Linked DNA regions of Homo sapiens. The protein of the gene in region 1 interacts with the protein of each later gene in a pairwise test. Each region holds a gene or a part of one and is shown on either strand. Other genes may lie near its edges. The genes, in order: WAC, AKAP9, KRT15 and MTUS2.

Region 1 (7,993 bases):
GAAAACAAATACAGTGACAGCACAGGTCACAGTAAGGCCAAAAATGTGCATACTCACAGAGTTAGAGAGAGGGATGGTGGTGAGTATCTTTCTTGTTGAAACTTTGACATACAGTTTTAACAATAGCTCTATATAAAAGGCGGCAGTAGTATTTCTAGCTTGAAGAAGTTACTGTTCAGTTATGTCATTAAAATATTTTAATCCTATCATTTTTTTTTTACTCTGAACAAGTTACTGTAGAAACAAGATGCTGATGTGAGCATCTAAAAAGTGGACTCTTAAGGCCAGGCGCGGTGGCTCACGCCTGTAATCTCAGCACTTGGGAGGCCGAGGCGGGCAGATCACCTGAGGTCAGGAGTTCAAGACCAGCCTGGCCAGCAGGTGAAAACCCATCTCTACTAAAAATACAAAAGTTAGTTGGGCATGGTGGTGGTGGCAGGCGCCTGTAGTGCCAGCTCTTCAGGAAGCTAAGGTAGGAGAATCACTTGAACCTGGTTGGTGGAGGTTGCAGTCAGCCTGAGATGGTGCCACTGCACTCCAGCCTGGGTGCTAGAGTGAGACTCCATTAAAAAAAAAAAAAAAGCGGACTTTAGTGTTTAATAATAAGGGAATGCATTTATGAATATAGTTTAAAACATGCTTTCTTAAGGATGGGAAAAATGCAGGACTTTTTTCCAAGAAAGGAACTTTGACCTTTTAAAGATTTCAGTTTGAGATCCTTATTGTTGCTTCAGTTTGTTACTTTTTAAGGTGTTCAAATCTGTTTTCTAATTACAATGATAAACTATGAATTTAAAAACTCATTATGTTTTTTCAGGATAGTTCCCAGATTTAAAAAATTATTTATGACTTAGAAAATACATTCTTGCTTTTTGTTGTAAACATTTTCAGTATTCTCCAGTTTTGGTGATGTGATTTTTATACCTGGTTCATTGAAATATTCTTTTTAAAAGTTAGTCTGATTTCTTTTGCACAGTCCTGTACCTTCAATTATAAGTTTGCCTCAAGCTCTTTGTGGTAGGAGTCTGAGAATAAGTAAACAAAACCAATTCTCAGTAACTATTTTCAGACTTAATTTGCCCGAATTACATTTCATGTCAAAAGCATGCATTAAGGAACAAAGCAATTTCAGTAAAGACACCTATATTCTCTCCTACATGTTGCTTAAGTAGATAACATATCTTAAGCAGATTTACAATATTAAAAGCTTCCAAGGAAACTCAGTAAAGTACCATGTGACTTTTTGCCCCTATTGGCAGCTAGTTCTTCAATACTTGGCTTACTTTAAAAAAAATACCTTGCATCTTGCCCCTTTTGTCCACCTAGGATAGAAATCAGCTTTATTCAGTGTGATCATATACTGAGAAACATTGGCTTCCTCTACATAATTACTGGTTTGAGAAAATACAGTCAGAAGATTGCACTGGGATTGAATAATTTGGATGAGAAGAAAGTAGTTCTCTATTGAATGTAGTTATAGCTTAGTGCTATTTATGCAGATAAACCACATTTTTGTAACAGTAGTAGCAGGTGTATTTGATTATTAAAGTGTTACAAGTTATTGGGTTGCAAAATTAAGCTTTTAGAGTTATCAGTTTTGTGGGTAAGTTTTCCATAGTATTATGTAAAGCCTGAGATGGTACTCTCTATCAACCACTCTTCTATAGTGGATTTCATTTCTAATGTTAGCTCTTGGAGAGCAGGTACTGGTTGTACTATACTGTATTTATTTTGAAAAATTTGGTGATTGTAACAAAATAGGATATGGCACCTCATCTTCTTACAAATAGGCTCTTATTTTAGTGACTATGATCCAGTTTATCCCCAAATGCAAGAAGTCAGTTTTTCAGTTATAAATGCTTTCAATCATTTCCAGCAAACCTTGCTCAGCCAATTCTTTTACAGGTGAAGTAATCCCAAGAACATTCTGTTGCTTATTCATTCAACAAACCTGGGGCATCTACTGTGTGCCAACATTTGTGTGATACTCCTGGGAGTCAAGATGTGATCCTGGCCTTGAAGCTATTCTTAAATGCTTTGACTCTTGAGAGCTAGTGGTGTTTTAGCCACTTACTTTTTCTGTACCCATTTTTTCTTCACTTTGATTTTTTCATTTTTCTACCTGTATGAACTCCAGGTACTTGTTAGCTTTTCGTTTTTAAAAATTTGCATCTTTCCTGATGTTTCTTTAGCTTCATTTGCAAGAAACTTGATGTTTTTCTGATCTAATCACTTGCTAAGTTAGGCCCCACTTTCCAATTTTCTTTCTAGCTGATTGTCGTCTTCTGGAGTCTTCCAGCTAATACTGTGATTCCATTCCTGTCTCTACCATCTCTAACATACCTGGCTGCCATATTCCTTTATATTATATGGAAATAATAATATGAGGTATATCTCCATTCTGGAATTGAGAGTACATCTTTGATATTCTCTCTTCAAAAAACGTAAAATGGTGATTTTTCCTCATTTTATAGTGAGATATTTAGTCATTATAATTTGTTTTCTGGTGTTTATTTTTTATTGCTAATGATGTGTTTGGCACTAAGATGTTAAAAGTGTATATGTATGATTTTTATTGCAGGCATTATAAACTCCTTTGGATTTTTATCCAAAAATGAATTCAGGCCGGGTCAGTGGCTCACGCCGGAATCTCAGCACTTTGGGAGGCCGAGGCAGGCAGATCACCTGAGGTCAGGAGTTTGAGACCAGCCTGGCCAACGTGGTGAAACCCTGTCTCTACTACAAATACAAAAGTTAGCTGGTTGCGGTGGCGAGTGCCTGTAATCCCAACTACTAGGGAGGCTGAGGCAGGAAAATCACTTGAACCCAGGAGGTGGAGGTTGCAGTGAGCTGAGATTGTGCCATTGCACTCCAGCCTGGGAGACGGATTGAGACCCTGTCTCAAAAAAAAAAAAAAAAAAAAGAATTCAGCCAGGCACAGCTGCTCATCTCTGTAATGCTGGTTGCTTGGGAGGTTGAGATGGGAAGGTCCTTTGAAGCCAGGAGTTTGAGACTAGCCTTGGCAACATAGCAAGACCCTGTGTCTACTAAAAAAAAAAAAAATTTTTTTTTTGATTAGCTGGGTGTGGTGGGATGATTGCTTGAGCCCAGGAGTTTGAGGTTAACAGTGAGCTGTGGTTGTGCCACCACACTCTAACCTGGGTTGATAGAGTGAGACCCGTCTGTTTAAAAAAAAAAAAAAAAAAGAAAAAAATTAATGTATATAAATTCAAGACCATTATCAAAAATCAAATGCAAGTGAGTTGGATTATCTAAGCTCTAAGCATGTAAAAAACTTAAGATTACAGCAGGTTACTTACTATATGCATTGAACTACTGAATTCAAATTTCCCAGTTTTTCATTTTAAGATTTAATGATTTTCTTTACTAATAATAACCTATATGCTATGATTTGTAACTTGCATTTTACAAAGCAAGTTAAATGTGGAACTTGTGCGTTTGTTTACCTTAGGATTAGGCTTTACTGGCATCACAGCATTTTTCAGTAATTACTAGATTTCTTAGCATCTTGGATTTCATTGAAAAATGCTCGTTCAGAAGTAATGTATGAAAGGACTTGCAGATACAATATAAAAAGTGAGAAATCAGGGATTGTGAAGGTTTTTATTCCCAAAAACCTTGCTAGTTAAAATAAGACTTGCTGTAACATAGCGTGTATAGTTTAGAGTTAGAGATTTTATCCATTAGGATTTATTAAAGGAAATAATGTCTATTGTAAATTTAAGATAGGTTATGTGAGAGTATAATTAAAATATTTTTTTGTGAAATGAGTTATTTTTATATAGTCTGTGATCTGTCTGAAAACATACAATCTTGTTTAAAGTAACCAAAAGCAAAAACCTTAAGGTACAATCGTTAGGGTTTGTTTTTTGGTTTTTTTTTTTCTGGAGACAGAGTTGCCCAGGCTGGAGTGCAGTGGTGTGATCCTGGCTCGCTGTAACCTCTGCCTCCTGAGTTCAAGCGATCCTTCTGCCTTAATGTCCCAAGTAGCTGGGATTACAAACATACGCCATCATGCCCGGCTAATTTTTGTATTTTTAGTAGAAATAGGGTTTCACCAAGTTGGCCAGGCTGGTCTCAATCTCCTGCTCTCAAGTGATCCACCTGCCTCGGCCTCCCAAAGTGCTAGGATTACAGGCGTGAGTCACCGCGCCTGGCCCATAGTGAAGTTTTTATTTTGTCATTTAGCTATATCTTTGGAAAAATTTGGAAATGTATTTTCATCTCCCTAACTTTCAAATAAAAGTTACTATTAACATTTTGAAGGAATTAGTAGGGATTATTTGGTGATAATGTCTTTTTTTAATATAATTTAGTAACGTTTGAGTCTTTCACATTGAATAATAGACTGGCAGTTGAGCAACATGGTCTTACCGTTGTTTAGATGACTTTGAAATATGCTTTGAGTTAGTAATGTTACAAATTACTAACATTAGAAATGTTGTATAGAAAGTAAGTATACAAATTAACAGTCGCTTTTGATACTCATGTTAACTTTGGAAGACAACAGATAGTATCCTTATTTCCAGTTTTACAAATGAGGGAAAATTTAATAAAATTGAACAGAGAGCAACAGCTCAGTCTAGAAACTAGTTCTCTAACTTCGGTAACTTGTATGCTGTCAGAGATTAAACACTTGGGTATTGAAAGCTTATTTGGTGGTGGTTACTATGGCATGAATTAGTTTGAAGGCATTTTTGCTTTTATCCTGCTAATATCTTCACCCTTCTTCCCTCAGTGGTTACAACTTGCCAAATTATAGTACCTTGATAAGATGTATTTGTGTAGTTCTAGGCGCAGTTATCACATCAGTGTTTTATTTTCAAAAATAAGTTTTGACATGGAAGCATGACACAGATTTCACTAGGAAAAGTCCATTTTCTCTTAATCCCTCATATTTAAAGACTTGTTTACGAAGTGGAAACATTGCATAGAATATAATACACTAACGTTTGGATTTTAATAATACGTTTGACTGATGTTAAGTATTTTTTGTCTAGTAAAAATAGTGACACATGACCTTTTTTCATTGATTTATGCTTTGTGATAATACTATGCAGAAATGTTTGCATTGGATTTCCATTGGTCAATTTAGAAAACACAGGAAACATACTCTGTTTCAAGAGAAGTGGAATAAGATTGAAGGAGTAGCAGTCTTAATGTTTCAACTCTTCATTGTTTTTTTTTTAATTTTAGAAAACAGTGTCTGTGATGTAAGCATCTGTGCATGTAAATTGTTAAATTTGAACACTAGTACCAAGTCATTTGTCTTACGCTTCTCATAATCACATTTTAACTTTTTATATTTTTAGAGAGATGGTTATTATGTATTGTTTATAATTTAATGGTATTTCTATTTTACAATCAGTATTTTGGAATGAGTTCACTTAGATCCTTAGATCCTTAAGACAGTCTTAATTGAACTGTTTTCTAGTTGTGCAGGAAGTATTTAAAATTTTTGGTGTAACATACTTGGGGTTTTGGTCTGTAATTCACAGAAAATTTATATATTCTAATTTGTGTCTATTAAGCATCTGTTACCTTATTCTGTTGTGCAGAATTGTTTGGGGGGTAGTGCATCATTTTGTTATGATGCTGGAAAGAGTGAAGATGGAAATAAGCTGGGCATTTGGGATGCTATACCAGGCACTAGATATAACTCATTGTCAATTTGATAATTACAAAACCAATTTTTGTGGGGTTGTGTGTGTGTGTGTTTTGTTTTTTTTTTTTTTTTTTTTTTTTTTAAGACAGTCTCACTCTGTACCTAGGCTGGAGTGCAGTGGCACGATCTCGATCTCACCTCATTGCAACCTCCACCCCCTGGCAAAATCAGTTATTTGGTTATTTGGGGCTTGCAAATATATTCTATGAACAGTCCTTTTCAGGATTTGTATGATGCTTTATAATTTTCAAAGGGTTTCTATATTGTTTCTCATCTGACTCCACAGTAGCTCTTTGAAATAGGCTGATCAGTATTATTCCTGTTGTACTGATGAAATTATAAAGTATTTAGCCTACTGTTGTTGAAACTGGAAAGGAAGTCTCTTCACATAAAATTTTATCTCTGCCTTCAAATTATACTCCAAGTATAACTAATTCTCACTATTTTATCATTTTAGTTCTGGCTACCACCTTTTCTTAGCTTGAATTCTGCAAGAGCCCCCTAGTGTTCCCGAGTCCATTTTGCTTTGTATGATTGTTTCCCCACACAGTAGCCAGAGTGATCCAGTTAAAATGCCAGTCACCTCACATCTCTCTCAAGCTCACGGCCCTCCAGTGACTCCCTGTTTCTTAGCAAATCTTATAATAGATCCTGTGTAATCTGGTGTCTGGGTATTTTTTCAGCCTCTTCTACTATCTTCCCCTTGTTTGTGCTACTCTCTCCATACTGGCCCTGCAGGCAGAAGTTTGTTCCTGTCTCAGGGGCTCTGCACATTATGTGCCTTTATGTTTCTCCTACTGTGCTCACTCACTTCAGTAATGTGTCTGCTTAAGTGTCACCCTCTCACAGGGCCTTCTCTGCCCTTGCTGAACACTCTGAAACAGTCATTCTCATCATTGTCTTTCCTTGCCCCTGCGTGTTCCTTCCTTGTATGAAGGTGACCTGTTATGATTTACTTATAGTCATTCTGCTATAACATGACATGGGCATTTCTGAAAGTCACGGTGCTGTGCAACATTGCACCAGACCAATTTATGGGGAAAATGGAGTTAGGAGCACAGTAACCAAAAACATTGTCAGTGACACATTTTAAAAAGATAGGAACCTAATAAAAATTGTAACTTAGTTTTACACGTATAAAATGGTTAAAGAATAACACCGCAATAAATGGCACTTTACCTTGACCAAAACCTGACTTCTTGTGAAAGTGGCCACTCATTGGAAGGGTTGCAGTTCATGAATTACTGTAAAGTGATGGATGGAAGATACCTGATACGAGACAAAAACTTGTAACATCAAATGTGGATGGACCTGACTCATAATTCATGATGAACTAAGATAGCTATTAGATGTTTGAGCTGTGTCTGCCTTGTAAATTCCTGTGCAGCTTGATGTAGCTAGTGTTTCTCACAGGTGAAAATACACATAAGTGGGAAATTTGCTGGTTTCTGATAGATCAGTAGCCTTCAAACAAATTTGTCTATTTGGAAACAAATGTTATAGCAGAACTGACTGTATTTTAGTTTTTGTTTGCTTGCCTTTTGTGGAATATAAGCTCCACCAGAAGAGGAAGTGAGAGTTTTAATGTTTTTATCCACCTTGTATTCCTGTTACCTTGAATAGTGCCTGAAACTTTATAGCATTTAACTAAATGGATAGATAAAAAAAATTTGGATTGTTATAATTTAAGGGGAATGAAATTATAGTATTTTGGATTAGCATTCCTCAAACTTGAATGTGTATACTAAGCACCTGGAGATACTATAGTCAGTAATTCTGGGGTGGGTCCCAAAGATCTGCCTTTTAACAAGATCTCGGGTGATACCTACACTTCACTAGAGTAACAAGGTTCTATAGCAGCACCGTCCAGTGGAAATATGTTGGCCACAAATGCAAACCATATGTGTACTTTTCTAGTAGCTTTGCTTAAAAACTAAAAATGATTCAATTTTAGTATATTTTATTTGACCTAATATATCAAAAATATTTCAACTTGTAATTGATACCTTAAAAACTATAATGACATACTTTACATTCCCTTTTTGGTACAAGATCTTTGAAACCTAGTGTCTATTTAACATTTACAGCACATTTCAGTTTGGACAAGCCACATTTCATGTGTTTAATTGCCACATGTGAATGATGGTTATTGAATTGGACAATGCGGTTCTGAGGAATGTGATCGCCCTGTTGGCCTGTCTGGCTTTTACATATATTTTTATTTCTCTAAGGAAAGTATTTTGTATGCTTGACTTCTGAAATGCCATATTTATGCAAAGCAAGATTGGAGTTAATGGGTCCTTGAGC
Region 2 (8,159 bases), on another chromosome or scaffold:
ACAAAAAAATTTTAAAAATTAGCCAGGTGTGGTGGTATGCACCTATAGTACCTGCTACTCAGGAGCCTGAGGTGGGAGGATCAATTGAGCCTGGAGGGTTGAAGCTGCAGTGAGCCGTGATCGTGCTACTGCACTCCACCCTGGGCGACAGAGTGAGAACCTGTCTTAAAAAAAAAAAATCTTGTATTTAATCTCTCAGGGGAAATGAGTGTTGTGCGGTATTCTTACTATTGGAAGGCACATCAACACTAAAAGAAATGTAGCTTAATTAAATCATGAATTTTACAGATGTTATAAACAGAATCACTAGAATGTAACCCCAATAGAGGAGACCAATTAGATTTTATTTCCCTTTTCAATTCTGGTCCATTGGACATGACTGCCAGAGGCTCTTTATTGAGAAGGATACTGAAGCAGTGCTTGCACTCATTTGGAAATAATTAATGATTGATTTACAGTGCCTTCTATGGAAGCCTCCAGTGACCTTCACCTTGCTATATCCAATCCTCATTTTACGTGACCTATTAGTAGCAGTTGTCTTGGTTCATCACTCCCTCCTCCTTCACTTTCTTCGCTTGGCTACTGATTCCTTTCACATATCTAGCCACTGTTCTCAGTCTCATTTGCAGATTCTGCTCACCTTGCCTCCCTCTTAGAGTTGAAGTATTCCAAAACTCAGTCTTTGTAACACCTTTCTATCTAAACTTGCTCCTTAAAGCAGCATGGTCCAATAGAAAAATAATGTGAGCCACAAATGCAAGCCACATATGTAATTTGAAACTTTGTAGTAACTTCATTTAAAAAAAAAAGAAACTGGTGAAATTAATATATATTTTATTAAACCCAATAGGTCCCAAATATAATCATTTTAATAATATAAAAATAGTGCAATATTTTGTTATTTTATTTTAATATTAAGTCTTCCAAATCCAAAGTGTTACACTTACAGCACATCTCAATTCAGACTAGCTAATAGCTGTTGTATTGAATAGCATGGCCCTAGATTATCTCATCCAATTCCTTAACTTAAAATACCATCTACATCCTGAATACTGACTACTCTCACATTTCTATTTCTAGCTTGGACCTGTCTCCTGAATCCAGACTAACTGATGTCTTAGGGTGACATCAGTTCTTGGATGCCTAATGTGTATGTCTAAATTACCATGTCCAAAACTGAACACTTGGTCCCCAGATTTTCTCTTCTCCATTTTGGTTACTGGCAACTTCATCACTTCAGTTGCTCAAGCCAAAAATGTTGGAGTCAACCTTGACTTTTCTTTTTGTCTCAAACCTCATATCCAATATACAACTCCTATGATACTATTGGTTCTATGTTCAAAAGATATCCAGAATCTGATTCCATATCTTTTCCTCCACTACAGTACTATGGCCCAAATTCCCATTATCTGGGATTACTGAAATAACATCCAAACTGATCCCCCTTTCTCCTCATAGCAGCCAAATGTCCGTGAACAACATAAGCCAAATCATGTCATTCATCTGCTCAAAATTCTCCAATGGCTCCTAATCTTACCCAGAGTAAAAGCTGAAGTCCTTACAATGACCTTTAGAACTCTACAGGATCTGAAGCCGGGCATGGTGGATCACCTGTAACCCCAGCACTTTGGGAGGCTGAGGCGGGCGGATTGCTTGAGCTCAGGAGTTTCAGACCAGCCTGGGCAACATGGTGAAACCCTGCCTCTACAAAAAATACAAAAATAAGCTGGCTATGGCAGAGTGCGCCTGTGGCCCCAGCTACTCAGGAGGCTGACGTGGGAGGATTGCTTGAGCCCGGGAGGTTGCAGTGAGCCAAGATTGGGCCACTGCATTCAGCCTGGGTGACACAGTGAGGCTCCGTTTAAAAAAGAAAGAAAGAAAGAAAGAAAAGAACTCTACAGGATCTGGCCCCCTGTTACTTTTCTGACTTCATCTCCTACTATTTCCCTTGTTTATTCCACTCTAGCCACCCTCACCTCCTACTCTTCCTTGAGAAGGTCCATCATGGTCTCGCTTGAGGGCCTTTCTTTGGATTTGCTGTACCCTCAACTATCTCCGTGGCTCTCTACCCCCACCCACCACCTGCTTGTTTTTTGGGACAGTGTCACCTGTTGTCTAGGTCCTTACTCTAGAGTGCAGTGGCACAATCTGGGCTCACTGCTTTGGCCTCCCGGCCTCAAGTGATCCTCCCGCCTCAGGCTCTGGAGTAGCTAGGACTACAGGCTCCCGCCACCACACCCAGTATTTTATTTTTATTTATTTATTTATTTATTTTGTAGAGACAGGGTTTCGTCATGTTGCCCAGGCTGGTTTCGAACTCCTGAGCTTAAGCGATCCACCCCGCTCAGCCTCCCAAAGTGCTGGGATTACAGGCGTGCACCACCCCGCCCAGCCTCCTCATCTCTTTCAAGTCTTTGCTGAAATATCTTCTGAAAGAATCACCTGAGTAAGTGAATGACATGACATGAATTAATGATTGGTATGACAAGTTATGACAGAATAGGTGCCATAAGGAAGAGTCAGAACACTAGTGCCCAATGCTTGCTCTTCTAATAGAAGTTAACACAAATCTAACTTTCAACATTGATTGAGCACCCATTATGTAAACTAGACATGTATATGATTGGCTGCTATCAGTGAAGGAAACATTGAAATAATCTTGTTGCTTTGGAAGGTATTCTTGAACATTCTCAGCACCTACAAACAGCTGACTTATTTAGTCACCGAGAAAGCAGTATCCTTTAACAAACAGGAATAGCTTTGGATACCCTGGGGCTTCCCCCTCCTAGGCAATCAGCATCTACACTCATAATCCCTCAATCCAGGCAGTATTTAAATCACTGCACTATTAGAACACTTAGTTCTAGTCCTTACTCTTAATTTGATGGGTGACTAAGTAAATCACTTATTGCCTCAATTCTTTCATCCCTATGATAAAATGTCTAATTTTACCTGGTTCCTAATTCAGGTTGAGATAACAGGACAATATGCACTTGGCTGTTAGAAGTTGGCAGAATGTATGCATTACGGAGCTTAAGAAAAAAATCTTTTTTAAAGCTAAGATTTCTAAATGAGGGCTATTTAAAACTCATCTTCAGTTTGTGGTAGACTTAAGGTCTTTATTATCTCCTTTTTTGTTTTTTAACCTCAATTTTTCACTTAACACCACTTCTACGCTTGAACTCATTTTAGCCTATTTTTTGTTCACAACTGCTAGTTTTTCAGTCCAACCTAGCTCAAAGCAACGGAGAAACATGATAAATCTGAGTAATCAACCAGAGACATTAAAATGTGTAGTTCACTCCAGGAATGGATGTGAGCATTGGAGGGCAGGGAGACGAACACAAAGGACTGAGGGAGCACATGTCGGGGAAACAAGGAAAGATAGTAATGTTAAATTTATAAACACTGCTCAATTCAATCCAAAAAGCGTTTATTGAGTGCAGAGCTCTGTGCTGGTCATTTTAGTAAAGCCAAGATGAGCAAGACTTATGATGAGTCTCTGTCATCAAGGAGCTGGGAGTATGAGCTGAACTAAGACGCACACAAATTATTAAAATATGGTGCAGGGTACTTAAAGGAAGTCCAAGGAGAAATAAAGCTGACATTATTCAGGACGTTTTAATATGTCAGGGCAGTCACATATATTAACAACCCTTCCAAAAATTCCAGGTAGGCTCAGGGAGGATAGGTAACTTGTCATTAACGCTAGAAAGTTAGTGTAGTCTGGCATTGTCCCTAACCGAGGTTCTAAAGCTCAGGCTCCTTTCAGAACACTACTGTTAAAGGGAAGCCCCAAAGAGTCGGGGGAGGGGACTAAGTTTTGACTGGATGTGTCTCGGTTGCCGTGGAGGGAACAAGAGGTCAGAAAAGCCATTTGGAGGCAGCGTGTGCGATGGGACTATAAGGATGAACCGGAGATTGAGTGGGAACCAGTGGAGGGAAGAGGGAGGGACTTTTCAGGCTAAGGAAGTAATAAGAGCAATTAGCTGCTCTCATAATTCTTGAGTCAAGCAGTTAATGTAGGTAGAAAACCTGGCGTCCGCCCCCCCACCACCCCCCACCGGAACTTTTCCGTTGGAGCTTGTAGGTGTTCGCCAATTTCACCATTAGGTGTGTTAGTTTTGTAACCTGAAGGAAAAAAAAAACTCATGTTTTAATAGCAGTGGATTCCTCGGACGGAGGGTGGGGGTCAGGCCAGGAGCCTCTGGCACACTCCGTCTCTCCTACCCCTCAGCTCGGCCGCCACCTGTGAGCCGTTGATGTGCGGGAAGGGCGCTCTCTACGGCGGGATCCTCGCTGGTAGGAGGCAGGTCCCAGGCCTGGCAAGGGTTGACCCCGGAGGGCTGGGCCGGGGCGGCACCCCAGGAGCACCTGCCCACGAGGCGGCTGCGCGGACAGACGTTCCAGCCCCTCCCGCCTCGCCGTGTGTTTACGTGGAGACGAAGATGGCGGCGGCGGCGGCGGTGACGGCGCTTCCCGTGCGGCTGAGGACGATCCGCCAGTGAGCGCGGAGACTGCTTCCACTTCGGGCGGGGGAGCGCCGGACCGAATCGGCTCTCTAGGCCGTGGAGCTTGCCGTCCCACCTCCGTCCAAATCGACCTTTCCTTTCTATCCCCAACCACCCCTCAACCCCTGTTTTCCCCTGCCTTCCTTGCAGAGGCCATGGAGGACGAGGAGAGACAGAAGAAGCTGGAGGCCGGCAAAGCCAAGGTAGGAGAGCCCGAGGCAACCGGGCCTGCGGTGGGAGGCGGTGGCTAGCACGGGGTGGGAGGGGGCCTGGGAAGCGGAGTTCGCCGCAGCCCCAGTGCACTGCCCGAGAGGGAGGTGCTGCAGGGTCTTAGGGTCTGCATCTCTCCTCGCCCTCCTCCTTTCCCCTTTTTCCAGTTGGGGGACAAAGCCTTGTGCTAGCTGATAATACTTCCGCGAGGATTGAATATTGTGGCTCCTTTCTCGTGAATGTCCAAATAAAACTCCCCTTTTACTGTATTGCTGTAAACTAGTGTTTAGTTGCTTCTAAACCTCCGATCTTTCATTTTTTTAAGGAGTTTTCTGGGTGGTGCAGGCATTGTGCTTTCCAGGGTGGGGATTTAGGGCTTTTCTTTATTGGGTTGGGGATTTGTGCGCTGATCATCAGCTTGTCTTCCTTAGGTAGCACGCTGGCACTCTTGGGTGTGTGTGATTGGCCTGTGACAGCTGTCTCAGCAGTGGCTTGTGTGTGCCACAAGTGCCAGCTGTGAACTTGGCTTTAGGGGCGTTTTTAGAAGCGTGTCTTTGTATGTTTGTACTTGAAGGTCTTTGTCATGGCATGCGCTTTTGTGTCCTATGGAATGTTAATGCAGTCTGTGAATGGAACTTCTGAGGACCGAAAGGTTCCATATGCCAACACCTATAGAATTCCTGCTTTAAATAATTTAGTTGTTATATATCTCTCTGGCGAATCCTGGTTGTGTGTGTGTGTGTGTGTGTGTGTGTGTGAACGGTTATGGAAAAGCCTGTAAAGCAAACAATACAATACACAATTATACACAGGCATCGTTCATTGGGCTTCATGAGAAATTTAACATATACAGAATATAAGCTGCGTAGCATATTTCTTTTAAAAATTACATATTTGAGCATATATTTTGTCTGGGCTCAAAAGCCCCCTTCCTCCCTTCAATGAAGTCTTCTTTTATGGATTATATTATTTTTAGAGATAATTGTTAGCAGTCATACTTGGACAAAAATTGTATTACAGGTAACTGTTTTTCCTCTCTTCCTTTCTCTTCTCCTCACATAAACAAAGGAAACCAGGTTAGTGATTTATTATCAATGAAGGGCCATACCGCAGAGATGCAGTGATAGAAGCTCAACACAAGTTTGTTAAATGAATATATATATAAAAACTAGCTTCATATTTCTAAAATATAGTTGACTTTCCTATAAGCTCCCTCTATTTAAGATCAAGGTTTAAATGCTTGTATATAGCCAGGTAAATTTTTACTTTCGAATCTATAAATGGTGGGAAAGGGGAATCAGGGTATCTTTAGAAGTCCAAAGCCTACACTTGTGCAATCTGAGGGGCTGAGCAAGCTCTATGCATCTACGGAAGTAGTGGAGGTGAAGTGTGTGCCCCTCCAAAAGCATTGAAGATCTGATTAGATGTCTTACTTGTCTGTTACCTCACAATTTTTATTGCCTGCCCCCAGAAATGTCTTTCCTGAATATATGTGAAGCAGTCCTACAAAACATGGTTTACTTTGGACATACACATTTCATAATAGAGGATTTATTTAAATTGCTTGCAGTTGTAGTTGATGTGGCAAAATACAATTCTAGTTTCTTTGTGTGTTTCTTTATCTTTCAGAATTCTATGTATGGGGTAAAAACCTGTTTAAGGTGAATTTTTGTTGTAAAAGATTATCTTCTTTTAGAATTTAGCCCTTTTTCCAGTAAGATATAAATCTATGAGACTTGTAAGGCAAGGTGTGTTTGCTGCAACATTAGCTATACAATATAAAAATGCTGACATTGGGAGCCTGGGGCGAGAGGATTGCTTGACACCAGGAGTTCAAGACCAACCTGGGCAACATAGTGAGACTCTACAAAAAATTAAATAAAAAAAAAAAATAGCAGGGCATGGTGGTGTGCGCCTGTATGTAGTCCTAGCTACTCAGGAGTCTGAGGTGGGAGGATCACTTGAGCCCAGGAGTTCGAGGCTGCAGTGAGCTATCATCATGCTACTGCACTCCAGCCTGGGCAACAGAATGAGATCCTGTTTCAGAAAACAAACAAACAAAAAAAAACCCCTGGAAATAACTTTTAAAGACAACACGAAGGGAATCATTTTCTAAGTTATATAAATATGATGGAATATTTTAAAGCCATTAAGATTATGAAGACTGATAGGAATATGAAAAATAGTGTGAAAAGGGCATTATCAAAAATAGTATGTACATTATTTCATTTGTATAAACGTGTGCTTTCAGATTAGAACTGAAAAACTCTGGATTATAATTTTATTCAGCAAACGTATATTGAATCCCTATTTTATACCTAGAGGTGGTGACAGTGTCTGCTCTCAAGTTGCTCACTGTTTAGTGGGAGAGACAGACTCTGGGTGATAAGTACAAAGAGGGATGAGCTGCAGTAGGATTTGGGGGATATTCTTCCACGTTTTGTTAAAGTGTTTTAAATACTACTATGTCATTTTATAGAATTACTAAGAAAGCTTTACTATTGATATTAATGCACCATAATATAATGCCTTTCAAATAGTTATTCATACATATTTGCTTAATGAATGAACAGAATGATTAATGAGTCATTAATAAGTGTTACTTTCCTAGCACGGTTGTAATTTAATAACATTAATCTAGAATTCTCTTAATGTGAAATCCATATTGCTGGCATCAGAAACAACTTTAAATGATCATTTTCCAAAGTTTATCTGAGACTTCATTCTGCAAATGTCTCATTTGTTCACTGGACTTAAGTATTGTATTTGATAATCTAGTTTTGCAAACCACAACTTACAAATCTTTTTGGGGGTAATTTATTGATAAACAGTTCCATTGGAAAATTCCCTTTCTGTATCTAAACCTTATAAATGATCACTTTTTAAACAGTTTGTCATGTATGCAGTATAATATATAGTATACTGTATAAAATGTTTTATACTACCCCAAATCTGTAATAATGGGTTAATAAATTATGATATGTAAAATAATTCTACAAAGACTTTTTGAGTGTGGAAAATGCCCACAAATAATGCCAGGTTAAAAAGAAAAAAGTTACCAGGAAAAGGTATATGTACATATTTAAATATGAAGACACCTGAAAAAAAGCACCAAGATGTAAATCGTGGCTATCTCTGGGTGGTGGCTTATAGGCAATTTTAATTTTCTTTATACTTTTAGTATTTTCCAAATTCTTGATACAATGTATCTCTTTTATGACCAGAAAAGAATATTCAAATGCCATTTTTTTTTTTTTTGAGACAGCCTGTCTCCCAGGCTGGAGTGCAGTGGCAGGATCTTGGCTCACTGCAGCCTCCACCTCCCAGGTTCAAGCGATTCTCCTGCCTCAGCCTCCCAAGTAGCTGGGATTACAGGCATTTACCACCACGCCTGGCTAATTTTTGTATTTTTAGTAGAGATGGGGTTTCACCATGTTG
Region 3 (7,868 bases), on another chromosome or scaffold:
AAGTTCACTCTGTCCCAGGAAAGGGAGGGGAGGGTACTCACATACTTTGCCTGTAATGGTAATTCCTGTTTACAGAAGTCTTCATTTATTTAACCCGTTCCTTAAAATAACCTCATGAAATAAGCATTGCTTCCATTTTACAAAAGTAAACTAAGGCTCAGAGAGGTGAAGTGTTTTTTTCTATATGTAACTGCTCTAATGCATGGCAAAGGTGGGATTTGAAATTGTTTTTGCTTCTAGATTTAGTTTTCTTTCTACTCTACTCCCCAGGGCGTTGAGGTATCTGTGTGAAATTAATGTTTATTGAACACCTACTATGTGCCATTGAATTAAAAACAGCCCTAAAAGGTAGTATGAGCTGCATGTTATAGATCAGGAAATAGGCTCAGAGAGGTTCAGTAACTTGTCCAAGGCCACACAGCAACTACATGGTAGAGCCAGGACTAGAACCTAAGTTGCCTGATTCTTAGCCCATGGTGCCAGCCCCTGCCAGGTGGTCTCCTGGAGTTGACGCCACTTGTGCCGGTCTTGCTGACATTCCAGTCTTGTGCCCTATGAAGGCTCAGGCCGGGGATCCCTAGGGGCAGTTCCTCCCGACACATTTCTCCACCTCACTGAAACTGGGGGTTTGGGGCCAGGCATCCCGCTTGGAGCAAGGCTGGGGAGGCTGTACCTGTCAGTGTGTGTTGTGTGTGTGCATGCACTAACACATTCACCCATTTTTGGGGCAGCCCTGCATAAGCCCTTTAACGCCCACCAGCCCATACCTGGGCCCAGAGCCCAGAATGGGACCCAGCAGTGACCCAGACCTCCCACAGAGACCCCAACCCTGGCTTGCCTGGGGCCTGCCCTGGGCCAGCAAAAGAACGAAGTCCCAGCTTCCTGGTACAACTCTGCCCTTGGGTAGGTATGGCCCTGCTCCTGTGGTTTACATCTCAGCTGCCAAGAACTGAGGCCAATTCAAGGTAAGGAAGAGGCCCCAAAAGAAGTCCCACTTCTTCCTGGTGGAGAGGTGAGGGCTGCAGGCCCAACCCTATGAGTGATGGGGGCAAGTGAGGGACACTAGTTCCACGCCCGCATGCTGCCAAATGTACTCAGCACCCTGCTAAGGAGGCTGGAGACCCCATCACGGCCATGGCAATCCCGAAGGAGGAGCTGTTTCAAGGTTGGTTATGAACATGTAACCCCAGAGCCCCGCTGCTGTAGCCTGGACTGGGACCCCCTTCTGCCCCCTCCCTAGCTGTCCTGTTCTGGCCTCCAGCACCCACAAACCACCACCCCCAACTTAACTTCTCAGGAAGCCTTGGAGCTGGAGGGAGAGGCCTGGCTGCACCCCCAGCTGGGACTGCCCAGAGGCGCTTGTCCCTGCCCATGAAAGCCTCCCTTGTCACAGCTGAAACCTTCCCTCTGCCTCAGGGGCCCCTGGAATGTGGCTGCGGGGCGGGGTCTGGGCCCACACAGGTGGGGCAGGTGACTGTCAGGTCTCAGGCCTGAGTGTCAGGAATGAAGCCTGCCTTTGTGTGTGCACAGTGCAGGGTGGGGCTGGACTGGGGACACTTTTCTGTCTCAGCCTGGAGACCTGGGATAGGAGGGAGAGGGGAGTGGGGAAGTTGAGGGGAGTGCCTTTACATCCTGCTGGTCATCGTGGCCACTTCAGTCTGTTGAGCATTTCCTGTGAGTCATCTTGCTCCAACTGAGAGTCAGGCTGAGCTGGAGTTATTTCCATTTTCCTGATTGGTAGACTAAGGCTCAGAGAGAGGAGGCGGCATTACCCAAAGCCGCACAGCTGGTAAATGGGAAAAGAGGGGTTTAAAGGTAAGTCTCTGGGCTCCAGGACACACCCCCTCTCCCTGGCATTTCCCTGGGGAACAGGAGAGGTGTGGGAGGGTTCTAAGGTTGTTGGAGACTTCATTCTCCTTGTGCCCTCAAATGCTCACTATGGCCCTGAGGGGAGTCTGTGTTAATGGCCTAAGTTTAAATCAGGAACCAGGCTCAGAGAGGCTGAGTCTCTTTCCACTGGGCTGCACTGCCTCATTCTAAGGAGAAAAGGCCAGCTCCACAGATGGCCCCATCTGGCTGCAGTGGGCAAAGGTCAGAAACTGGCACAGCATCCTGGGCAGGCTGCCTGGGGCAGGGCCCGGGGCTACAGCCTGGGCTGGGGCCAGACAGAGCTTTATCTTCGCAAGGCCATCCCACCTGGTGCTAATGAGGAGGCTCCGGGCCCCACCCAGATCTGGAGCTCACAGTAGCGGTTTGGACTGAAACCAGGGATTTGTGCGTGGGGCAGTGAGGGGGGCAGCTGCCGCCCCTGGCCTGGGCCTGAGAGTATAGAGAAAGCCACCTCGAGGGGCTGCTGGAGGAGAGTCAGGTGCAGAAGGGGATCTGGCTGGGGTCCAGCCCTTCCTCACCCTGGGGTGAAAGGCGAGTAATTGTTCTTGAGTTAATTGCTGGGGCCACAATGTCTGCAGAGGCTTTTAATGAGCTCTGGATGATCTGAGTTTGATTATTTTTCTTTCGGAGGAAAAGACAATACCCTCCCACCCATGAGACAATACCACACTGTCTGTGCCCAGCATTGGAGGCCAGGCTCACTGCGAAGATGGATGAGAAGGAACCCACCCCCAGCCTTGCTGGCTGGCAGTTCCCCTTGCCAGCCCAGCTCAGATGCAGGAATTTGGGGTCTGCAGGAAGGACTCTTTCCCTGTGCCCTGTTTGGTTGAGGGTGTGAGGACCTGTTTGAGTCCTGGCTTTGCCCCTTACCAGTGGTGCCACCTGGCACAAGTTGCTTCACCTCTCCAAGTTTCAATTTCATTCTTTCTGAATCTTGGGTGGGGGTCACCCTCTGTTGTGAGGATGAGAGGAGGTGATGGATGCAAAAGTGCTTTGTAAATCACAAAGTGCAGGGTAGAAGTAAAGGATTATGCTATTATAGCAAAATAAGAACCTAAGAACAACCTGCGTTGCCCCATAGGAGCTGGCTATGGAAGGTCGATGCCGTTGAGCCTAAGAACATGCTCAGGCTCACAGGGCATGTTCTGATGCCCAACGACAAAGCCCCTCCTGGTGAGGGCACTCAGGCGCAGGTGCCGGTCATGCACCCTGGCCCCTGCATGTCTGGCACCTGGGTGGGGATCCAGGAGGGGGCAGGATGGGGGCTCTTGGGCCACAGGGCTTCCCTGGAAGTGAGAGTTGAGAGCGCCCCTTGCCACAGGGAAACAGAGACTTAAAAAGGTAAATGTCCACAGTCTTACCATGGTAATTGGTAGGGTCAGGATTTGAACCCAGGCCTCACAGTCTTACCATGATAATTGATAAAGCCAGGATTCAAACCCGGGCCTGAGGGACTCCAGAGCCCTGTCCACTTCACCATGCTGCAACCTGGGCTAGGAATCCTCCTCCTGAGTTTCTGTAAGCCCTGGGGCCAGGTCCAGAGGGCTGAGCCACACCTCCAAGTGGCACTGCCCACAGGTATCAGGTGTCCCTGGAAAGGTGTCCCTGAGCTGGTGGCAGAGAAAAGGGCTCTCCTGAGTGTTCAACTCCCCGTCTGTGTGAAGCAATGCCTTGGTCTTCAAGATCTCCGGTGTCTTCCAGCCTGCCTGCCAGTCTCCCTTCTCTTCCCTTCCACAGCATTCAGGCACATAGAGCCTTCTGCAGCGGCCCGTCCCCAGCCAGCACTTGACAGGACAGATGGGGGCTAATCTGGCCCTGCTAAGCAGCGACATGCCTCTCCTGGAGAAGGCAGGGGCTTCCTGGAACTTGCCCCAGCCTTATCAGCGGAGGTTTGCCCCAACACATCCCAGAAACGAGCAAAGGTTCAGCGCCGTGCAGTTGGCAGGTGTCGGGATCATCAGTCATCCCCTTGTCAGTCCCAAGCCTGCTGGGCTTTTGTGAGGGTGCCAGGAACACAGGCTGGAGGATGGCAGGAGGGGAGTAGAGGTGGGAGGAGGGGAGTCCATCTGCAGCACCAGGTAAGGGGATGGATGCTGGCTCCTCTGGTCACCTCAGCTGGAACACTACTCAAGGTCCCTGGCTCCTGTCCTCCACCTGCCCCCAGGGGCCCTGCATTCCCATCCCCAGGGCCTCCACTCTCCCTGAGCCCTGCAGTCTCTCACTCACTCACTCACTCACTCATTCACTCACTCACTCACTCACAGGGTTTTGAGTTGGATAACACAGCATAATGATCGGCCAGTGGACTCCCAAACTAAGAACACGGAGCTGTCCTCTTGGGGAGAGGCTCAGGGCTCGGGGAAGTGAAGTCCAGCTGAGGGCACAGTTGGCCTGAGCTGCTCTCAGTACAGGCAGAGGCCTTGGTAGCTGTGCTGTGATGAGAGTTCGCTCCCTGCTGCTCTCTTCTGGCATGGAGAGATGAACCTGTAATCCAAGTGTTAAAACCGTGCCCTGGGGAAAAACACTATTAATTCTGAATCATCTCTTTTGTTGCATTAAAAAAAAATAGAAGAGAAAAACTTCACATGACCCACTCAAGGTGTGCAGGCAGCTGTGTTTGTCAGGAAGGCAGAAGGAGTTGGCTTTGCTTTAGGGGAGGAGACGAGGTCCCACAACACCCTCTGAAGGGTATATAAGGAGCCCCAGCGTGCAGCCTGGCCTGGTACCTCCTGCCAGCATCTCTTGGGTTTGCTGAGAACTCACGGGCTCCAGCTACCTGGCCATGACCACCACATTTCTGCAAACTTCTTCCTCCACCTTTGGGGGTGGCTCAACCCGAGGGGGTTCCCTCCTGGCTGGGGGAGGTGGCTTTGGTGGGGGGAGTCTCTCTGGGGGAGGTGGAAGCCGAAGTATCTCAGCTTCTTCTGCTAGGTTTGTCTCTTCAGGGTCAGGAGGAGGATATGGGGGTGGCATGAGGGTCTGTGGCTTTGGTGGAGGGGCTGGTAGTGTTTTCGGTGGAGGCTTTGGAGGGGGCGTTGGTGGGGGTTTTGGTGGTGGCTTTGGTGGTGGCGATGGTGGTCTCCTCTCTGGCAATGAGAAAATTACCATGCAGAACCTCAATGACCGCCTGGCCTCCTACCTGGACAAGGTACGTGCCCTGGAGGAGGCCAATGCTGACCTGGAGGTGAAGATCCATGACTGGTACCAGAAGCAGACCCCAACCAGCCCAGAATGCGACTACAGCCAATACTTCAAGACCATTGAAGAGCTCCGGGACAAGGTGAGTCCTCGGATGTCAAAGAGAGGGGAGCAGGTGGCTGGTACCCTGTACACAGCTCTAATGTCAGTGTTACTGCTGACTCAAGGAAATCCTTTCCTGCCCAGGCAATGACTGTCTGGTATGTAATCTCAGCAAATTTGGAATGCACCTGCTGTCCAGGTGCAGAGGCCAGTGCACATCTTCTCAACTTGGTGGTGCTGGGGGAGGGAGAGAGGGGTCTTGGGAATCTGGTTAGGACCAACAGGGGCACAGGTGGGGGCAATTATAAAGAGCCAGAGGCAGTAGCTCACACCTGTAATCCCAGTGCTTTGGGGGGCCAAGGTGATAGGATTGCTCGTGTCCAGGATTTAGAGGCTGCAGTGAGCTATGACTGTGCCACTGCACTCCGGCCTAGGTGACAGAGTGGAACCTGTATCTAATTAAATAAAAATAATTAAAAAAAAAGAGCAACTCGCCCTCCCTACCTCATGCACCCTGCAGGCTTCTGCATAAAGTATTCCTTTACCTCTTTTGCAAGAATGGGATTGGAGTGTGGCCTCATGAGTTCCAGATGCTAGAACCTCTTGTCTTTTCCTATAAAGAGGTCTTTTGTGCCAAAAGTACTGTTGGGTCTTAGGAGACCTGGGAACTCATTACACATTCTGCCACCCACTCACTCACCATTTTACTCCCTAAGACTGGGTTCCTCATTCGTAAAATGCCTTCTTAACTGCCCTCCAGGTTGCTACTGGCTGGAATGTTCTGTAGATCCATGGCTGTGTCCAAGGTGTGCAGGAGGCAGTGACCATGAGTTGTCCACAGTGGGGCTGGTGGAGTGTCTCTGAGAGAGCTATTGTCAGAGCTGGCTGCACCCCACTGCCCCACTCTCCTGGGCAACCAATTCCCACAGGCAATACTGCCTCCTTGGTCTTTCGTGCCCTGGAGATAAGGAAGGCAGCTCCTCAGGTGTCTCAAGGAGGCTGGATGGGACAAAACAAGAAATGGACACTGAAAGTGAGGCTGGACTTTGCCCACCCCAGAAGCCGTACAGATTTTTGTTGGTGGTGTCAGAGGGGTGATTGTCAGTGAGGGGTGATTTTCAATGAGGGGCTGGCCTTGGGTGCAGAGCAGAGAGCAGCAGGGGAGAGAGAGGAGTCCTCTAGACACCGACTCTGTCTCCTGCAGATCATGGCCACCACCATCGACAACTCCCGGGTCATCCTGGAGATCGACAATGCCAGGCTGGCTGCGGACGACTTCAGGCTCAAGTGCGCTCCCCCGTCTCTCTCCTCTTCCTGCATTGCCCACTTTACTTGGCCTTCTCCTGGCTCTGACTCAGGCAGCCAAGACCCCTCCCACTTCCTTCTTTGGCCTCCCTCTCCTCAGGTATGAGAATGAGCTGGCCCTGCGCCAGGGCGTTGAGGCTGACATCAACGGCTTGCGCCGAGTCCTGGATGAGCTGACCCTGGCCAGGACTGACCTGGAGATGCAGATCGAGGGCCTGAATGAGGAGCTAGCCTACCTGAAGAAGAACCACGAAGAGGTGAGAGCTGGCCCCCATCACCCCTGAACCCGAGAGAGGTGGGGAACCTCTTCCCAAAACTCACTTAAATTGCCCAGAGGGAAAGACAGTGGCTCCAGGAAGCCCTCCCAGATTTTCACGAGATTAAGTCAGTGGGAGGCAGAGTGGGGCTGTTGGTACTTCCTCATAGTTGGCCTGGGGCTTAGTGGTTCAGAAACACACCTACCCCACAAAACCAGGTGTCCTCATGGAGAGGAAGGGGCAGTGTCTGGTAGCCCAGGCCCACAGCCAGCCCAGGTGGCCCGTATGAATGGTTGACTTCCTGATTGGCTTTGTGAGCTCACATCAGGGCCCTACAGTCTCGGGGTCCTCCCTTGGTAGGACCTAGAGCAGCAGAGAACTCCTTAGAGCTGAGGGGTCCATGTGACCAAACCTCTTCATGTGCAATGGGGAACAGCGGTTGGGGTGTGTTACGGGCAGAGCCAGGATTGGCATGTGTGACGCCAGACTCTCAGGTCTCTCTTCTGCTCTCCGTCTCTAAGTGGGTCCCTCCCATCCTGCAGGAGATGAAGGAGTTCAGCAGCCAGCTGGCCGGCCAGGTCAATGTGGAGATGGACGCAGCACCGGGTGTGGACCTGACCCGTGTGCTGGCAGAGATGAGGGAGCAGTACGAGGCCATGGCGGAGAAGAACCGCCGGGATGTCGAGGCCTGGTTCTTCAGCAAGGTGGGCCTTATATCCTGCCCTGCCCTTCCTGCCCCAGGTCCCTGAGTCTCCGAGGAGGCCCCGGGGCTCACTTCTGTTGTGCATGACCTACAGACTGAGGAGCTGAACAAAGAGGTGGCCTCCAACACAGAAATGATCCAGACCAGCAAGACGGAGATCACAGACCTGAGACGCACGATGCAGGAGCTGGAGATCGAGCTGCAGTCCCAGCTCAGCATGGTACGGCCACTCGCGCCCCATCCCAGCCTCTCGGGTGGTAGAAGCTCCCACTCTTCCTGGCTATTTAAGCCTTGGAGTTCTCAAGCCCCCTCAAGAGGTGGTTCCCTGAACTCCATTCAGTGCCCCCTCCCTGCTTGCCCTCAGTGGCTTCCTTTCTAGCCTGATGTGTCTATGCATCTGTCACTCCCCCAGAAAGCTGGGCTGGAGAACTCACTGGCCGAGACAGAGTGCCGCTATGCCACGCAGCTGCAGC
Region 4 (8,109 bases), on another chromosome or scaffold:
ATATATATATATATATATATATATTTAATTCAAGAGAACATTCTACTCTTCCTTTCACAGCTTTTTTTTTTTTTAATTTAATTTGGCTGGGCGCGGTGGTTCATGCCTGTAATCCCAGTACTTTGGGAGGCTGAGGCGGGCGGATCACTTGGGGTCAGGAGTTCGAGAACAGCCTTGCCAACATGGTGAAAACCCATCTTAACTAAAAATACAAAAATTAGCCTGGATATGGTGGCATGCACCTGTAATCCCAGCTACTCGGGAGGCGGAGGCAGGATAATAACTTGAACCTGGAGGTGGAGGTTGTGGCGAGCTGAGATTGTGCCACTGCACTCCAGCCTGGGTGACAGAGTGAAACACCATCTCAAAAAAAATTAATTTTATTTTAGATTCAGGGGGTACATGTGCCTGTTTGTTACATGAGCATACTGGAGATTGGGCTTCTAGTGTACCCATTACCCAAACAGTGAACACTGTACCCCATAGGTAATTTTTCAGCTCTCGCCCCCTGCCCACCCTCCCCTCTTTTGGTGACCCAGTGTCTATTATTTCCATCTTTATGTCCATGTGTACTCATTGTTTAGCTCCCACTTATAAGTGAGAATGTGTGGTACTTGGTTTTCTGTTTCTGAATTACTTCACTTAGGATAATGGCCTCCAGCTCCAGCCCATGTCACTGCAAGAGACATGATTTCATTCTTTTTGATGGCTGCATAATATTCCATGATGCATTAATATATGGACCACATCTTCTTTATCCAGTCAACTGTTCATTGACATTCAGGTTGGCTCCATGATTTTGCCATTGTTCTTTTCACAGTTTCTAAATACAGCATAACCAACTGTTAAAATAAGACTTATCTTGGAATGCTGCCAGGTGGGCCAATAGATAACTATGACAGTTTGGGACCTCTGAAAAGCAGATGTCAAGATAGGATTAGATGTGCCAAAATATTTTAAAGAAAACACCTGTGCAGGATAGTGCAGGAGGGAGAAGGAGCCTGGCATGCAGGTGAGGAGTGCCTTCTGACTGCAATACAGGTCTGACACTTGTGAATGGAGAGAGGGAAGGGAAGAAGATTGGGTAGGAAGAGCTCCAGACTGCAGCACATTCTGAGAAAGCCCTGGTAGGGTGGTAGGAATTCCAGAGCAAAGACTGCCCACTAGAGGCAGAAAGGGCATAGCTCTAGCGCTCTCACCATGTTCCGTTGTGAGCTGGAAACAGCTGGGGAATGTGTGACCTTGGTATGAGCTCTGTGGTGGATCCAAATGTGTGACAGCTGAAGGCTGTCAGTTGCTCAAGCTTCCAAGATCTCAGGGGATCACCTCCCTCCATGCCACCACACAGATAGGTATCCCCACACATAAATCCATATAAATGGAGGTATTGGACCATCTTTGTAGGATTTGCTAAGTTGGGGTTCTGCCACCTTCAGACCAAATTGAAGGAAAGGAGAGAGCAATCAAGGGAGAAGATGAGAACGACACGGTGCTGACAGGGAGAAGGAGGACCCACCCACTTCATGCAAAGAAAGGCATGCTTCCAAAGAACTACTTGGAGAGCCTGGCATGTGTCACCTGGAGTGTGGGGACATGCATGAACCCAGAGATGGCTGAGAAGCTTCAAGGAAAGAGGCCGGTCAGAGTTACCTGTGACCAGAGAAGAAGAAAAGAGAACTGCAGTGACAGTGGCCTGCACTTCTATAGCGTGATGGGCCAAATGCCAGTTGGTGTCCGTGGGTCAGCACGCACGTGGTGGAAGGTAGCTGGGACTGACTGCCAGGGCATGGTGCCTTGCAGAGGGCCTGAATGAGGCTGACCACCAGTGAAGCTGAGGCTGAAGTTGCAGGGTCAGAACCCCACCCTGCCCAACTTGAGAAACCAGTGTTTTTTTTTTTTTTGAAACGGATCTCGCTCTGTCGCCAGGCTGGAGTGCAGTGGAGCGATCTCCGTGAACTGCAACCTCCACCTCCCGGGTTCAAGCGATTCTCCTGCCTCAGCCTCCGAGTAGAGGAGCCTAGAGGCATGTGGCACCATGTCCAGCTAAACTTTTTGTATTTTTCATAGAGACGGGGTTTCACCACGTTGGCCAGGATGGTCTCGATCTCTTGACCTCGTGATTCATCCACCTCGGCCTCCCAAAGTGCTGAGATTATAGGCGTGAGCCACCGCATCCGGCTTCTTTTTTTGACAGAGGCTTGCTCTGTCGCCCAGTTGGAGTGCAGTGGCATGATCTCGGCTCATTGCAACTTCCACCTCCCAGGTTCAAGCAATTCTCCTGAGGAGATGGAATTGCAGGTGCACGCCACCACACCCAGCTAATTTTTGTATTTTTAGTAGAGACAGGGTTTCACCATGTTGGCCAGGCTGGTCTCGAACTCCTGACCTCAAGTAATCCACCGGCCTCAGCCTCCCAAAGTGCTGGGATTACAAGCGTGAGCCTCCGTGCCCGGCGGTGGAACCCGTCTTCACAGAGCTAGCTGGGGAGAACACAGAAGCAGGAAGCGAAGGTCGTTTTCCTCCTCCTTGCAGGCTTCTGAGCTTGGGTCAGGTTGGGGTCTGGTGGGTGGTGGGAGGCTAGTGGGGAAGGCTTGAATGGATTGCGATTAAAGTTTTGATTTGGATTGGGCTGGACTTTTTATTATCAGCAAATCTGACTGTTTATGAACACCTGAAAGTGACAGGAAAAGCTATGAAATTTGCCCCAGATTCTTCCAGGGGAGAAGGGAGAGCTTCTGGAATAATTTTTAAAGACAGTGGTCTGAAAAAAAAAAGTGCCATTTCATGATTTCCCTTCACCAAGTAGTCCAGTTGGTTAAAAAAAAAAATTAACTGTCATAAAGTATTGGTTAACACAGTGGTTTGGAAAGACATCCCCTAAAAACAAAAAACGCCAACCTAAATAGTGCAAAGACCAGCAACATCGTTTCATCTTTATAATGGTAAATGTTTATTCCATTGCTGTTTGAATCAGTCTGCAGAAGTCCTCTGGTTTCGCTTGCCTTTTCAAACCTCCAGGTGCACCGCGTGAGGGAGTCTGAGCATTTCAGGTAGGACTGGAAAAAGGTCTTTGAGAAATCATTAATTAATCTATTTACCTTACCATAAGAGCAGTCAAGGCTCGCTGGAACCCCTCGGACAGTGGGGAGGCACATTTGGTGCTCATTAAACATAGAAATAAGCTTGCTTCTAGAAAGAAACGCCTGCCTTTTGCGCAAATCTTTTCAGAGACTGGCTTTGGGCTCCTATGAATCAGGCACCCTAGCGTCCTCCAAAGTTCTTCCCGATGCTGAACCCCAATGCCTCCTGCTGCGCCTAATTCGAAGCGGCTCCCTCTTCTGTTCTGAGCGGAAAACAGCGGAACCCATTCCTGGAGGCCTGCCCTGGAACGGCCAACTCATTCTTACTCCTTTCTCCTGGGGTCCGATGCTAGGGCACCACGGTGACCAGCCGCGCAGCGGGCAGCGGCCCGCGCCGCGCCCACCGCCTGCGGAGGCTGGGTCTGGGTCTGGGTCTGGGGCTGGAGCTGGGGCTGGGGCTGAGGCGGGAGCTGGGGCGGGGGCGGGGGCTGGGGCTGGGGCTGGGGCTGGGGCTGGGGCTGGGGCTGGGGCGGGCAGGCGCGCGCGCAGGAGCGGGCGCAGGGGCCGTCGGCAGAGGGCGCTACGGCTCCCGGCTGCGGAGCTGCGACGCGGGGCGCGGGGCGCGGAGCGCGGGCCGGGAGGAGGCGCCTGGGTCTCGGCGAGTGCGTCTCCGGGCGGCCGGGAGGGGGTGCGCGCATCAGCTGCCCCGCGCCGCCTACCGCTCGGGCCCGCTCGCCGCCCGGCCACTGTCACCGCGGACGGCACCTCGCGGGCGAGGCGCGCCGGCTGCGTGGCGCGCTGCGAAGGTTGGGCTGGGCGGCCGCCGGCCCCGCGGCTTCTCTTTGTCCAGGCGAGGCGGCTGGAGGAGCAGCCGCGGCCGCGGCGGAGCCGGGAGCGCCTGGGCGTCGTGCGGGCGGCTCCGGTCCCCGGCTGCGCCCCGGCCCTCGAGCGGGGGCGGCGGCCTGGGCGGTGCCTGCGCCGAGGTGAGTGCGGGGGCGCGGAGCGGAGCGCAGCCGCGGCGCGGGCGTGGGCGGGCAGAGGTGATAGCGAGCGCCGGCGGCTCCAGGTGCGGGGGCGCCCCTCGCGCTCCACCTGCGCCGCCGCCGCCGGCTCTCAGGGCAAGTTTATCTCCCCCCTTCTGCGGAAACCCTTGACCGCTTAGCGGAGTACAGACCTGTCGGTAAATAGAAAACTCGAGCTGGAGAGGAGGAGGAAGCAGCGTGGCGGAACCCGGCCCGAGATGAGCGTCTCCGTGAGGGCAGTGGTGGCCTCTTGGACATTACATCTTTCTTGGCTCTTTTTGACCCAGGTGAGCGAATCCTCTGCTGCGCGGTCCGGTGGGGTCGGCTGGCTCTGCTGCCGCCCTCTGGACCCGCCGGAGACAGGTGAGCGGAGTTGGGGAGCGCGCAGCCGGGCTCGGGGCAGCGCCGGGCTGGTTCGGCTTCTCGTCTCCAGAGCGCTGATGCTTCCTGCCCACATCACCTGCTCTGGCTTAGGGACTGCAGCTCTTTTGGCACCTTCGCTTGCTGCCAGGTTCAACACCCACTGCTTTAGAGGCGTTGGTAGGTTAGTTAAGGCGAGTTCTCCCCTACCCACCCCCAGCTTTGGATAATTTGGTCTGAGTCTTCGTCTTAATTTAGTATGAGTGTGTTATTTCCTTCAAGCTTTATAATGGTAAAGCAGTGAAGCGGCTTGCTACATCCATTTTTTTTTTTCATTCTGTGCCTGTGCACAGAAGGAATTACAGGCACACAAGTGATGTTACTACCATTCTATTTTAAATACAAACACGGAAAGAAGTACTCTTGGCAGGATACCAAAGGCGCCTGTACTCTCTGTTATATAAATGCTTAAAAAAATTTGCTCATTGGTAAAGTTATGTGTGATTACCAGAGCACCTAAGAAGAGAGTGTCATGCTTTTAGTTTACTTGGAGATAAGCAGTGGTCTTAGCTTGAGGTACCCTTTTAAGATAATATAGGACCCTATATTAAAAAAGTCATTAGGTATAATTGTAAAGCATTAAAAAATTGGTTTTGTAAAGTCTATTAGGAATTGGTGAGAATTCTTTGACTACTTATTGATAAAAAGATCCTACATGTATACTTTCTAGTTTTCAAACTATTGAATGATTTTATTTTTATCTCTGATGGAAACTTAGTAATTGTGAGTTGCCAGTTATTAAAGATGTGTCTCTCTTTCCCTTCCCTTTCCCCAGGCCCCAAAACCAGTACTCACATTTATGGCTATTTTTTTCAGGTAAAAATACAAAAGTAGAAAACATCAGATATACTGATGGCTGGGAACAGCCCTTGTCCCTCCTCCACCCAGTATTCTGTTCTAATTGGTCTGGGCTGATACCTTGATACCTGTAATGTTAAAAAGCTTTCCTGGTGATTCTAACGTGTAGCCAGGGGTGAGACCCATTGTGGAGCATTGTATTGTCACTTTCTGTAGCCTATGGTGTTGCTACAGTGGTTTAAGGTAAGTCAAAAATACGTTGTTAGAAACATGGGAAGAAAAAAATGGTATTGGAAAGGGGACACATCAGAGAATTACAGCATGTAGACTTTTGTGTTTTGTCTAAATGCTCTTTCTTGATTTTCCTGCGAAGAGTAGTTGATGTTTATTAGGGACCCATAATTCCATGTAGAATACTTACGGGAATCTTAAGTGATATATTTCATTTGCAGAAGTACCAATGAAAGTTGAGTAGTAGTGGCAGGATATTCATTTATGTTTACACGGTAAAGTAAGTCATAGGAAAGATTATTTTCCATATCAAATTAAAAACTTTTACTATAAACTAGTAAATTAAGTGCAAAAAGTTTTTATTGTTTTTAAGGTCAGAAAGAAACCTGGCCTCTGAGTCAGTGTTTTCTGTCTCCCTTATGTAATCCCAAATATCCAAATCTAGGAGCAGATCTTATGGATGGTTTATGAAGGCTTATGTAAGAGCTATGACTGTGCTTTTGGTACTCCATTAAACTCCCTGTTTGGGCTATTACATAATTGACACGGAACTAGACTGTTAAAGCCAAAATCCAGGAGGATGCCGAAACCCACTCCGGCATACGCACTTTTATAATGAATTGCTGTTGCCAAATTGGAGGGAACAGCAGGGATGGTGGTTTGTGAAAGAGAGGTAAGAATAGCATCTGGGGGATTGATGTAATAGAAGACTGTTATGCTTAGCGATTTTCTAGAGATTTGAATGCTGTGGCAGAAACCTCTCTAGTCCTTTCTATCTCCAGCAGAGGCAGATCGACTGGGGAGCTAATGAACCTAAGCCTCAGGTCCCTCCGTCACAGAGGCTTCTTTGGAGCCCTCTGGGAGGGGCACTGGCAGTGTGTTCATGTGGTCATCCCTGAGTTTGTATTTGTACTTTTGGATTTTTTTTTTAAATAAGGAGAGTACTCTTTCTATATTCCCACCCCCCAATTATATAAACCCAAGGTTCCACAGACCCTGAATCTATCCCTGTCTTCAAACCTGTGTTCAAGTATTAACTTATAAAATTGCCTATTCTTAGTTTAATTTTTGTCATCTGAAAAGATGAAAAAAATCTGTACAATATCATAGTTGACTTGCTGAGAAAATGCAAACTGCTATAACCTAGGGCTGTATAGAGCCACTGAAATCAGGCACATACCTGGAGAACTAGCTCTTTGCCTCGTGATCGCACACACATGGGATTGTTTTGGATCAGTGTGTGAGCTGGAGGTGGAGAAGAGTGGAAACGGGTTGGGGAAGGGAGGAAAGTGGGTTAAAGCTCTTCCTCCTCTCAGAGGCAGGATGCCAAGGGGAAAGGAAGGAAAACTATTGAAAGATGCTTCATTAATAAAATGTTAATAGGAACAGATAGCATCAGCTCCATAGGAGATCCTTCTGTAAGCTCAGGATTGGTCTCTAATACGAATTTTCAACAGTAAGCAAACAAACTCATTCCTCGAAAATATCCTACAGGAAACAAATGCAGGTTTGGAAGGACTAGATGAGTATCTGCTTGTTCCCATTAGCAGTTTTTATGAGCAAGTGGGAGGCTTATAATATCTACCACACACATGTTTGAAACGAGTTGTTGAAAAGAGTCAAGGAGTTTCCCCTTTTCTCTGAAATGATTTCTACTTCCTATGTGAATTTGGATGCCTTTAGATCTTATCATCTTGACCCTTCCCACCAACGGGTATACCTTGTCTATCAATTACCCATCCATCAGTCATCTATCTACCATCCACCCACCCATCCACAGAGACTCTCTTTTTGACCAAACTTTAGTCAGGCTCCCCTGAGCCCTCTTCTCAACTGGGCCTCAACCTTGGCCCGTAAGAACTGCAGCTTTCAACACAAACAATTTTGTCTGTGCTCCCACCCTCCAACGGATTTGAAAACACTGTAGCATGGTGTATTAGCCTGTTCTCACCTTGCTGATAAAGACATACCCAAGACTGGGTAATATATAAAGGAAAGAGGTTTAATTGACTCATATAGTTCAGCATGGCTGGGGAGGCCTCAGGAAACATAGAATCACGGTGGAAGGGGAAGCAAACACGTCCTTCTTCACATGGCAGCAGGAGAGAAAAATGAGCAAAAGGGGGAAAAACACCGTATAAAACCAGCAGATTTCATGAGAACTTACTGTCGCGAGAACAACATGAGGGTAGTTCCCCCATGATTAAATTACCTCCCACCTAGTCCCTCTCATGACACATGGGGATTATGGGAATTATAATTCATGATGACATTTGGGTGGGGACACAGCCAAACCATATAACATGGCATCTAGCAGCCTAAGGCCATGTGTCTGGGATCACCCAGCCTCACTTGCATTCCTACCTAGAAAAGCTCAAGGCTGCCCCAAAGAATTTATCTTTTGTTCTAGCCCACACAAATGATAATAGGCCCCTGACTTTCATTTTGTTAGATCGTTTATTAAAAACTTACAATTGTAATTCTTTCTCTGTGCCTTTGAGATATATGTGTATCTCCTACCACCTGGAGTGTCTTCCTCAGTGTCTGTGAGCCATTCC

The links.
Region 2: the proteins of WAC (region 1) and AKAP9 interact in binary tests that used the Homo sapiens proteins (3 or more experiments, as listed by UniProt).
Region 3: the proteins of WAC (region 1) and KRT15 interact in a two-hybrid assay, tested with the Homo sapiens proteins (4 studies listed by BioGRID and IntAct).
Region 4: the proteins of WAC (region 1) and MTUS2 interact in binary tests that used the Homo sapiens proteins (3 or more experiments, as listed by UniProt).

Annotation. Positions count from the first base shown.
Region 1 is NC_000010.11:28,535,679-28,543,671, forward strand, and holds part of WAC (WW domain-containing adapter protein with coiled-coil), read left to right. Parts: coding exon 1-79; intron 80-7,993.
Region 2 is NC_000007.14:91,936,434-91,944,592, forward strand, and holds the start of AKAP9 (A-kinase anchor protein 9), read left to right. Parts: upstream 1-4,428; 5' UTR 4,429-4,666; coding exon 4,667-4,714; intron 4,715-8,159. UniProt on the Homo sapiens protein: Scaffolding protein that assembles several protein kinases and phosphatases on the centrosome and Golgi apparatus. Required to maintain the integrity of the Golgi apparatus. Required for microtubule nucleation at the cis-side of the Golgi apparatus.
Region 3 is NC_000017.11:41,515,632-41,523,499, reverse strand, and holds the start of KRT15 (keratin, type I cytoskeletal 15), read left to right. Parts: upstream 1-4,609; 5' UTR 4,610-4,672; coding exon 4,673-5,170; intron 5,171-6,282; exon of another isoform or gene 6,283-6,334; coding exon 6,335-6,417; intron 6,418-6,535; coding exon 6,536-6,692; intron 6,693-7,213; coding exon of another isoform or gene 7,214-7,234; coding exon 7,235-7,396; intron 7,397-7,489; coding exon 7,490-7,615; intron 7,616-7,807; coding exon 7,808-7,868.
Region 4 is NC_000013.11:28,816,223-28,824,331, forward strand, and holds the start of MTUS2 (microtubule-associated tumor suppressor candidate 2), read left to right. Parts: upstream 1-4,116; 5' UTR 4,117-4,389; intron 4,390-8,109. UniProt on the Homo sapiens protein: Binds microtubules. Together with MAPRE1 may target the microtubule depolymerase KIF2C to the plus-end of microtubules. May regulate the dynamics of microtubules at their growing distal tip.